Regions from separate parts of the Homo sapiens genome. Here all the other regions are linked to region 1. The links come from fine-mapping of genetic effects on gene expression. A gene starts in region 1. Each other region holds a variant in brackets. All regions are shown on one strand. Distances are between the middles of the regions.

Region 1 (2,684 bases):
CTGCAGCTGCCAGGCAAGCCGAGAGGCACGGGGCTGTCCCCGAACCGCGGCTTTCTCTGTGTAAATGATGGACCTGTTGAGAAGCCTGCCTTCCGCCCGATTCCGGTGCCCACACAATCGGAAGAGAGGTTGCCTAGCTCTCCCCAGCGAGGCTTCAGCAATCCTGGCAAGCCCACGCCGCCGGTGATGGAAGCGGCCCCAGGGGCCTCTCACGCAGGCACACACACACACAGACACACACACAGATACACACACACTCTCTCTCTCCTCCGGCCCACGTATATCAACAAGCACACACATCTCCATCCACACTGCTAAGCCTACACTCCGATCGTGGGAAACAAAAACATTAAGCAATCACCAAGCAAGTGCCCGCAGAGCCAGGGCCGCGCGCATCTGCCGGGAGGGGGACGCGCGCCCAGAGGCGCTGGGGCCCGATTCCGGAGAGCAGGGGTGGAGGGCCAGGCGATCGGCGGCGGGGGGTTGAGGCAGCAGGCAAGGGTCTGCGGCCTGGGGGAAGAGGACTGCAACCCGGGCGGAGCGCGCAGGGCCACGGCCGAAGGAGCTCTGCCGGGAGTCCAGGCTGCCCCAGGGCGCGCGGGCTGCGGTGGCGGCGGTGGCAGCCGGAGCTAGCAAGGAGAGGGAGAGCGGGAGCGAGCGGGGACCGCGGCAGACAGCCGGAGGGCCGGACCCACCTGTCTCGGCGAAGCTGATGATTTCGGAAACGCGCTCCTGGCCGTCGGCGCCCGGGCTGGCGTGGCCGTCGAGGTGCGGGATCTCCACGCGGCCGTCCTCGCGCACCTTGCCCGCGTGCAGCTTGCGCAGGGCCGTGACCATGGCGGCCTTAGGCACGGCGTGCGTGATGTTGGGCCGGCCCCGCATCTGCAGGCGGCTCAAGATGTGCCGCTTCACCGCCTCCAGGAAGTCGCCGTCCACTCGGCCGAGCTCCTCTGGCCGCCGGAAGCCGCCGCACGACGTACAGGTGTCCTGCGAGCCACCCGGGGATCCGGGTGGCGGGGGTGGCGGCGGCGCGGCAGGCGTCGGCGGGGGCGTGGGTGAGCCCCAGGCCTCAGGCCCCAGCCAGCCGGCCGCCAGCAGCAGAAGGCAGGCGGCCCCCAGCGCCCGACCGGGCAGCCCGTCCATGGTGCGCCGCTGGCGACGAGGGCGCCCGCCGCGAGGCGAGCCGAGTCGAGCCGAGCGCAGGGCCGGGCTCCGGGCTCCGGGCGCGCCGCCCCGCCCCGCCCCCGCCCGCGCCCGCGCCCGCCCGGGCCTCCGCCCGCCCGCCCGCCGGGAGGGCTGCCGCCGGCTCGCAGGGGGAGGGGGCCGGCCGGGCCTCGGGGGTTCCCGCGCGGCAGGGAAGGGGCGCCGAGGGCCCCGGGGGCCCGAGGGGCGCGCCGGGCGGGGCGGAGGTCGCGGGTCACTGCCGCACGGGCGTCTCGGGGCGCCTCGGCATCTGCAGCCTTCTCCCCATCCTTTCCGCGTCGGGGGCCCCGCAGCCCCGGTTCGGGTGAAGCGAAAGCAGCGTCAGTGGGAGCGGCGGTTCGGCCGGCGGCTGGGGAAGGTGGCGAAAGAGCGGGTCCACGCAACTTGGCTGAGACGGAAGCGAAGGCGCTGGAGCCCCCCGGAGCGGAGCCGGGCGCGGCTTGGCGCGGCGCTGCGGCGGGCGCTGCGGCGGGGCCCCGCGCTCGCACCTGAGCGCCTCGCCCTCACTGCCTCGCGCCAGGAAGGGCCGCCGGCGGCGGAGACGGGCAGGTCGTCCTCGCCGCGGGCCGGCGGGCAGTGGCGCGGAGCAAGCTTGGTGCCCGGGAGAGCCGGCCGCGCGGGCCCGCTCACAGGCGGCGCCGAGCCCTCGGCCGCGGGCCCTGCAGTCCTCCCGGCGCGTCACACGGCAAAGTTGTCTCCAGGATCCCTGGGCGCCGCATCCACGGGCGGGCGGCCGCAGCGCGCTTCGCCGGGGCCTCTGCTCCGCCCGCCTCCTCGCAGCCTCCCTCCTTCCCTCCGCCTGCCTGCGCGGCCCGGCCGGGCGCGGGGCGCCGGGCGAGGAAGGCGAGGGGGAGGCAGGGCCCTTCTCGCTCCTGTCTCTTCTGCCTGCCGCGGCGGCGGCGAGGTCGGCTCGAGCGCCGAAAAGTCTCGCAGCGTCCCCGGGTGCAGTGCCCTCGCTCGCGCTCGTACTGGCACCCGCCGCAGGGCCGGGAGAGAGCGGGCGGGCGGCGGCGGCGTCCCCGCGCCGGGCCGCGGCACGGAGTGCGGAGCTCGCCGAGGAGGAGTTCTTCTCTTTGGTCTCTCTTCTTTTACTCTCCCCGTTTTTTCTCCCAAGGGGGAAAAAAGCCGCACAATCTCCGTATGTGCGCGCGCGTTGAGATAGACGTTGGCAGAAAAAAGGGGGGGAGGGAGGGTGTCGTCCTGCCCGTGCGAGAGGAGACGGTCCGTACCTCCCCGCTCGAGCTTCCCGGGGTGGGGGGAGGAGGAGAAAGCGGAATCTGTTCAGGTTGGGGCTGCCCGCTCCCCGCGCTCACCCCTGCTTCCCACCGCTTTTTTCCTTTCTGCCTTCCCGAGAAGGAGGGGCGAGCCGGCCCTCTCCCCTCCCCTCCTCTCCCCTCCCACCCCCCGCAATGCCGGGCTACTTTTGCTACCTCGAAACTTTCCCACCACGTGGGCGCCCCGGACCCTTGCCCAGCTGGGCG
Region 2 (2,684 bases), 240 kb before region 1:
AAGACAGACAAAAGCATCCAGTCCTGCTCCTTTGTGTACAGATGAAGAGGCTGGGCCTAGAGAGGGAGAGGGGCCCACCTGGGTCCCCCAGCAGGGTGGTGGTGGTGCTGGAAACAAGATGGACTCTTTCTGACTCCCTTGGTGGTGGTAATGGTGGGTGGCAGGACCTGGGCTGGGGTCACTGGGTCAAACTAGTGTCACCTGGCCCCTGGGAGCTACCTATCTGAAGCAGCTCCAGAAACTTAAATTTGCTAATTAATTTATAATTCCAGCCCTAAGCCATAAAATCAAACCACACACTGAGCTGTCCACAGTTGCCTGACAGCTGGCCTGTCTGATCCTGGCTGTCTGCTCACAAATTGGTATTAGTGGCACCAAGAGCAGATTAACATGGTGACCAGGCACCCAGAAACTTGATGCCACCCGCTGGGCTCACTAAAGCTGTCAGTCTCCCCAGCTGCTAAGCTGCCCAGGCACCCATGTCTCCCCAAGCTTGGGTTGCAGAGCAGTCCTGGGCCCAGCAAGGAGTAGGACCTTTCTCAGCCATCAAGTGATGCCACTGGTCAAATATAAGTTACAGGAGAGAAAAGCAGGGAGGCATTGCCAGGAAAGCAGTATTCAAATTTCAGAGTTTGCACAGGGCTTGAGAATCAGTGGGGACCATGGGCATTCATCATCCTAGCCAAAGCCCACACTGCAGAGCCAGAGAACTGAGCCCAGAGAGGAAAGAGCTGCGGTGGTGTCATCCGGTACAGGACTATAGCTCGGGCTCCCTCCCCGACAACCTAATGCTCTACCTGTTCCTCTGAGTGAGAATGCCGCTTTCCCATCATCTCTGCCAACCTGCGTTTTTCTTTTATGTATTTGTTCACCTCATCAACTCCTACCTCCTGAGCACCTACTACTGTGCCAGACACTGTACAAGGCCCTAGGATACAGGAAGCAATCATTGTGGGAAGAACTAGAAATATGAAGAGTCATTCTTGAGGTTAGTATGATATACATTAGTGAACAAAGGAAGGGAGGGCGGGAAAACATCCCAGACAGGATGAGCCACGACATGGGTTGCATTAGATAGGGTTGGAAAACACCACGGTACAGTGGTGTAAGCAAGGCATTTTCCCTCCTGTAAAATTCCAGGGCCAATATGATCACTCTGACCTGCAAAAGCCTTGGACACCCATGCTCCTTCTACCCACTACGTCTCTGGTCCTCATGGGTCAAGATGGTAACCAGGGCTCTAGCCATCAGGTCCGCACTCCAGGCAGCAGGATGAGAAGGACAAAGAAGAAGTGGGAAAATATATGTTCCCAGAAACACTTGTATAAGAACACTTAATGTCAAGAACTATAAAGGGTCTGAAATTTTACTCAACTTGAAAGGTAATGAGTTAGGCTCTTGAGAGGCTGGCAGAAGATG[C/G]CAGAACCATGAGTCAGAGACAAAGGATGTTATTCCTCACAGCACAGCAAACAGCATGTGTATCAGCATATTTGCGTCAGTTCCTTTTGCCCCAAGTCCCACAGAACAATGTGAGTGGGCCCAGATGGATCCTGTACTTGCAGTGAATTGCATTACAGGAGAGGAACCCTGAGCTTAGGGAACCTGGATCTTTTACAATGGGAAGCAAGCGTGCTTGCCCTTTGCTCCAGAGGGAGACGCTTGATCTTCCAAAGCTGTCTGCAATACAAACACCCATGAAAAGATAGGTCAATCAGTGCCTTACTCATAAGATGTGTAGAAATGCGAGAGACTCATGGGGAATTGTCTCCCAATATACAGCAGCTTTATTCATAATAGCTCCAAACTGGAAAGAGCCCAGACGTTCATCAACAGGAGAAGAGATATATTTATGCAATGGACCATATTTGTGCAATAGCCATCTTAATGGGTGTGAAATGGTATCTCATTGTGGTTTTGATTTGCGTTTCCCTAAAGATGGGTGATGGGTGTCTTTTCACGTGCTTGCTGGCCATTTGTATATCTTCTTTGGAGAAATGCCTAAGTCCTTTGCCCCATTTTTTAATCAGGTTGTGTTGTTGTGTTAATTATAGAAGGTTTTAACCAGGGTGGTAACTTAGATTTACGTGTTTGGAAGATTCCTGTGGTGCCCTATCTGGAGTGTGAATTGAAGGCAAGAGTGAGAGTAGCATGATCAGGGCGGAAGCCGCTGCAATGATCCAAAGATGATTGATAGTCTTCACCAAAAGAGAACCACAGAAATGGAAAGGAAGGGATTGGGGAGAGAGGCATTAAGGAGCAAGAATGGGCAGGCTTGATGAGCGCATGGCAAGGGTGGGGAGAGAGGGGAAAAGTCAGGGCTGTCCAGGCAGTTGACTGACGACCAAGTACATCACCATAGAGAGGGCATCCTATAGGAAAAATTTGCAAACCCTCCTCTGGTAACCCCTGTCCCCATGAACTCCTACAGAAGCAGCTGCACGGGACCAGCATCTTCAACTTTTCCTGTTTGGTGATTTTGCTAAAATATCTCACCTAGCTCTGAGCACTCCCTGTTCACCTACCTCTCCCTCCCATCCCTCCATCACGTCTGGACACCTGATGCCCCTTATCTCTTGGCCCCAGTGCACGTGGGTTATCCAAATCTTCAGTTCCAGGCTCATGTCTGTCCTCACAGATTGACAACCTTCAGAAATGTCTCCAGCTTTTGGACCCTGGCTCCCTGG
Region 3 (2,684 bases), 65 kb after region 1:
TTTTATTTTACAATTTCTTCAATAACTGCCACTTTCCAGTTCTCAAGTATGTTAGCCCATGAGAAAAACAGACTAAGGCCAGGCACAGCTTTCCCTGGTCTCTGTGAAGAGAACAGAAAGAAGAGAAAAAACTCTCGAATCTTCTGCATGCATCTGCCCCCTCCTCTTACCCACCCCCGCCCCCCTCCCCAACACACACACACCCAGAAACCTCCAGACCAGGCTCTCCTAGTCTCCTCAGCAGTGCTAGCTCTGTTATCTTTTTTTTTTTGAGATGGAGTTTCGCTCTTGTTCCCCAGGCTGGAATGCAATGGTGCGATCTTGGCTCACTGCAACCTCCATCTCCCAGGTTCAAGCGATTCTCCTGCCTCAGCCTCCCAAGTAGCTGGGATTACAGGTATGCACCACCACACCAGGCTAATTTTGTAATTTTAGTAGAGATGGGTTTTCTCCATGTTGGTCAGGCTGGTCTTGAACTCCTGACCTCAGGTGATCTGCCCGCCTCGGCCTCCCAAAGTGCTGAGATTACAGGCGTGAGCCACCGCGCCCGGCCCCAGCTCTGTATCTGAACTTGCTCTTGGAACTGGCAACCCAGGGCCTCTCAATCACTAACACTGTAGGGGAATCTTCTCTCCTTGGATCTGCCACGGCTCTGCCTCTAATGCAGGTTTCTCAACAGTGGCATTGTGGATATTTTGTGCTGGCTAATACTTTGTTCGGGGCTGTCCTGTGTGATGTAGGATGCTGAGTGCGTCCTTGGCCTCCACGCACTAGATGCTGGTAGCATCTTCCCCCAAGCTGTGATGGCCAAAAATGTCTCCAGGCACTTACGAATATTCCCTGGGGAAGCAAAATCCCCCTCTCTCACCTCTGTTAACAACTACTTCCCTAATCCTATCTCCCTAATCCTAATTCCCCTACTCACCACCCCCTCTCTTCCCCAACCTCTGTTATAGGGGAGAAAAAAGCTTTCGTAAGCAAATTATAAGTTTTTGAGCAAAAACAAACAAAAGACCT[A/C]CAAAGCAGATGCAGATCTCCCAACCTGCTTCTCTTATGCAAAAACGTTTTGGGGAAATTCAGCAGATTACATTAGATTTATCCAGTTTGACCCCCCAGAATAAGATAAAGAAAAGCAGGTACCAAACACAAAAGTGTCTCATTATAAGACATGGGGAGCATGACCCAGGAGGATAACCAGGTTTGGGTTTGAAGCTTATTCATTATGGGGGCCCTTCCTTAAGATACAAAATTACACACGTAATACTGGACATTAAAGTAAATGTTGACATTGAATGAGAAATCATAATCCATTATAAAGTTTTAAAGATGAGTACTCCAGCGATCTCACCCCCGGGTGACTCTCAGTGAGGCGAAGGGAATACCCCCATGTTTCCATTTCATTTTATAAGACCGTCTAGGCTGGCTGGAGACTGTCCTGCCGGCCTTGGAGAAGCAAGCCACTGTGGTATGAGCTGCCTATGGAGACGGCACATGGCAGGGGCCTGCGGGCAACTTGTAGAATCCGAGCACCTGTGTCCTACACCCACAAGGAACTAAATTCTACCAACAATTAGGGAGCCTGGAAGAGGACCCCCACGCCTCAGAAGAGGTCACAGCCCCAGCTGACACCTTGAGTGGAGTCTTGTGGGACTCTGAGCAGAGGACTCAGCTGAGGCTCCAATTCTGGACCCATGGAAACTATGGAATGACAAATGTATGTTGTTTTAACCTGCTAACTTTGTGATTATTATACAGTAATAAAAAAAACTAATACAAACAGCACTGACATCACAAAATCCAGCAAAATAACAATATTTTTATTAATTAAACTGCCTGACATACCTCTAGAATACCTTCTACTTTTTTGTTTGCTGTATACTTTTTCTTGTCATATGCCAATGATTTTGAAACATTCCTATAGAGAATAAAAAATAATTTAGTCTTTCCTTTAGCATGGTTAATGAAAATGTCTTTTGTTCTGACAGCTTAGAAGAGGTTCTTTCAGCTTCACAACTACATGAGTTTTTTTTTTTTTCTTTTTACTTTAAGTTCTGGGATACATGTGCAGAACATGCAGGTTATGTAGGTATACATGTGCCATGGTGGTTTGCTGCACCTATCGACCCATCATCTAGGTTTTAAGCCCCACATGCATTAGGTATTTGTCCTAATGCTCTCCCTCCCCTTGCCCCCCGCCCCCCAAAAGGCCCCAGCATGTGATGTTCCCCTCCCTGTGTCCATGCGTTCTCATTGTTCAACTCCCACTTATGAGTGAGAATATGTGGTGTCTGGTTTTCTGTTCCTGTGTTTGCTGAGAGTGATGGTTTCCAGCTTCATCGATGTCCCTGCAAAGGACATGAACTCATTCTTTTTTATGGCTGCATAGTATTCCATGGTGTATATGTGCCACATTTTCTTTATCCAGTCTATCTTTGATGGGCATTTGGGTTGGTTCCATGTCTTTGCTATTGTAAATAGTGCTGCAATAAACATACATGTGCATGTGACTACATGGCATTTCTAGTAATGAAAGTTTTGGGATTACTGCCAAATTTAGGAAACCTCTATTGAGCTTCACTGTACAAGCTGTAAGATCTGAAAGACTTTTCTGGCCCAGTTTCTAGCTTCTAGCTCTCACACACTTGTGTCAGGTGCCACAGGACAGGTTCGCATCAGGATCCACC
Region 4 (2,684 bases), 91 kb after region 1:
GCCAGGTCTGGTCTGAATGCTGGTAGAAGGGATGGTATGCCATCTCCAAGATTAGACACTGGATTAGTCTGTTCTCATGCTGCTATGAAGAAATATCCGAGACTGGGTAATTTATAAAGGAAAGGGGTTTAATTGACTCACAGTTCCGCAGGGCTGGGGAGGCCTCAGGAAACTTACAATCATGGCAGAAGGAACCACTTCACAGGGCAGCAGGAGAGAGAATGAGTGCCAGCAGGGGAAATGCCAGACGCTTGTAAAACCATCAGATCACGTGAGAACTCACTATCAGGAGAACAGTATGGGAGAAACTGCCCTCATGATTCAATTACCTCCCACCGAGTCCCTCCCACAACGTATGGGGATTATGGGGATTACAATTCAAGGTGAGATTTGGGTAGGGACACAGCCAAACCATATCAGCCACGAATATACTGCTGCTTCCATCTTGATCATTATCATATTCATTCTCTCCCTCTCTCCCCACCCCCGTCAGATCACTTGCTCTGGGGAGAAAAGCTATGTTGTGAAAAGCCCTGTGCATAGGCCCACATGGTGTAGAACTGAGGCCTCCAGCCAACAGCCATGTGAACGTGCCATTTTGGAAACAGATCCTCTGGTCCCAGTCGAGCTTCAGATGACTGCAACCTCAGGAGAGACCATGAGCCAGAAGCACCCAGCCAAGCTGTCCCCAGATTTCAACTTCAGAAACTGTGTGAGATCATAAATGTCTGTTGTTTTAAGCTGCTAAGTTTGGGGAAATTTGTTATGCAGCAACAGAAAACTCATTCAAAAGGTAGGCAAACTTTACAGGCAGCCAGGCACGCAGGACCAAACTACTATATTTCCTTCATCTCATGCCGTATAGCTTGGAACAATGCTATATATAAAAAATGCCCACAAAGCACTGACAAAAGCAACAATGAAAACAATATATTGGTAATTATCAATTAATGGCATTTTTCTTTTCTGCATTTAGATTTCAACTAAAAAACAACTAGCCACCATCACCAAAAACAAAAACAGCCAGGAGAACACTAAGGAAAATTATAAGCAGCTACTTTTTTTAAAGTGACAAACTTGAAATTGAGACCTGGCTAGAATTTTGCAATTGCTTCTAGTAAGCACATATACCGTCCCTCTTTGACACTCACTTCCACATCCTCTTCATCTTTCTTTCCACTGTCACCTATCCAAGACTCAT[C/T]AACCCTCTTGCCTACTGGCCCCTCTGCTTTTTGGAATATCTAAGAATATATGTACACATACACCAATATTTATATTCCTAGGTACCAAAAGAACTGAGGAGCTAAAGGAGACAGCCCATGGTCAAATCTCCAAGGCCACATATTTAACTGGTATGGCTTGGATCAGTGGTCTGTGCCAAGCAGACAGCTGATGCTCAGTAACTGTTAGTTTTTCTCCTCCTTAACTACTCCGCCATGTGATGAAGGAAGAGTTCCTTTTCCTCTGTGCTCGGCTCTCTTTGCGATAACATTCAGAACATACATTCATTTAAAAAAACAAAACGAAAAAAAAACCAAGCGTCTTGCATGTCTAGAGCAGGGGCTGTTTAGCAGTAACTGGAGCCAAGGAAAAGTGGGACTCCTGTATACCATCTGGAGACAAGTTACACTGGAAAACTACAGAGTTCACCTAGATCTCTTCGCACTCTAGTCTTACATTGTCTCCAAATTTAGCTTTCAAGAAAGGTCTCTAATGATGTTTCTAACTTCCATAAGTTACATGAGGGGGGTAAGAATTTAGCAACTAAATGCAAAGAGGCATAGTAGGATTACGTGATTTGGAAGAAAGAATTATCCCTGCCAGACGGGGTGGCTCACACCTGTGATCCCCAGCACTTTGAGAGGCCAAGGTGGTAGGATGGCTTGAGCCCAGCAGTTCGAGACCAGCCTGGGCAACATGGTGAAACCCCATCTCTACAAAAAATACAAAAATTAGCTTGGCATGGTGGTGCAAGACTGTACCAAGCTACTCGGGAGGCTGAGGTGGGAGACTCACCTGAGCCTGGGAGGTGGGGGCTGCAGTGAGCGGTGATCACACCACTCCACTCCAGCCTGGGAAATAGCGCAAGACTCTGCCCCCAAAAACAAACAAAAAAAGGATTATCTCAATTCTCAGGCTTAAAATTTTTCATGGAATCTCAAGCCATCTTCAGTCAAGGCAAGAATTTAGAACTTTTCTACCCTCATCTTCTACCAAAATCTCTTCATATGCCGTGGAAGACTCTAAATCCTGTTTATCCTTATGGTCTAGGTCCCAAGTTCCCAAAAGATATCTAATAACTTACACTATTTTCCACACACAATCCTGGGAAAATGTTCTATTCCTCGGGCAGAGGGAAATCTGGCTGAGATCTCCGATAAGAGTGCTGTTTCCAATGGGAAGCAATGTGAATGGGCAAGGAAGGAAAGCCCCAGATGTGGTCAGAATAAAGCAGACCGGCTGACAACTAAAGCCACGCACAAAGGATATGTCTCCCTGGCCTTCTTCTCCCCCGCTCCTATTTCGTTTAATCCTAACAATTAGGATAACTATCATCACCCTTCTACAGTTGCTGACTCTGGAGCTCAGAGGGGGAAAGATCGTGCTCCACATCACAACACCGGTAAACTCTCAGAACCTGCATCAAACCCAGGTCTTCAAACTCACCCCTCCTGTTTTTCCCA

Alleles and levels. Alleles are on the strand shown, and positions count from the first base shown. SD is a standard deviation of normalised expression in the study named. Not every link is listed here.
With allele G in place of C in region 2, the expression in subcutaneous fat of the gene that starts at base 1,196 in region 1 is lower (small effect, 0.25 SD a copy in GTEx).

The links.
Region 2: its variant is fine-mapped to the expression of INHBB in subcutaneous fat (GTEx, PIP above 0.99). The same link has a PIP of 0.9 or more in breast, ileum, lung and skeletal muscle.
Region 3: its variant is fine-mapped to the expression of INHBB in whole blood (INTERVAL, PIP 0.92).
Region 4: its variant is fine-mapped to the expression of INHBB in whole blood (TOPMed, PIP 0.92).

Annotation. Positions count from the first base shown.
Region 1 is chr2:120,344,648-120,347,331 of GRCh38, reverse strand. It overlaps INHBB (inhibin subunit beta B), which reads right to left and starts at 1,196. Exons shown (of 2, transcript NM_002193.4): 1 at 696-1,196. The coding sequence starts at 1,143. LOC105373989 (putative cuticle collagen 91) reads right to left here. Exons shown (of 3, transcript XM_047446882.1): 3 at 1,339-2,445. The coding sequence ends at 1,418.
Region 2 is chr2:120,588,772-120,591,455 of GRCh38, reverse strand. No RefSeq gene overlaps it. Among named protein-coding and RNA genes, the nearest start is that of LINC01101, 120 kb to the right of the region's middle. RefSeq lists an enhancer at 2,439-2,684. The variant C/G (reference allele first, on the strand shown) is at 1,420.
Region 3 is chr2:120,280,066-120,282,749 of GRCh38, reverse strand. The region is part of intron 2 of RALB (RAS like proto-oncogene B); the gene reads right to left. Among named protein-coding and RNA genes, the nearest start is that of RALB, 29 kb to the right of the region's middle. The variant A/C (reference allele first, on the strand shown) is at 1,018.
Region 4 is chr2:120,254,111-120,256,794 of GRCh38, reverse strand. The region is part of intron 1 of RALB (RAS like proto-oncogene B); the gene reads right to left. Among named protein-coding and RNA genes, the nearest start is that of RALB, 2.6 kb to the right of the region's middle. The variant C/T (reference allele first, on the strand shown) is at 1,202.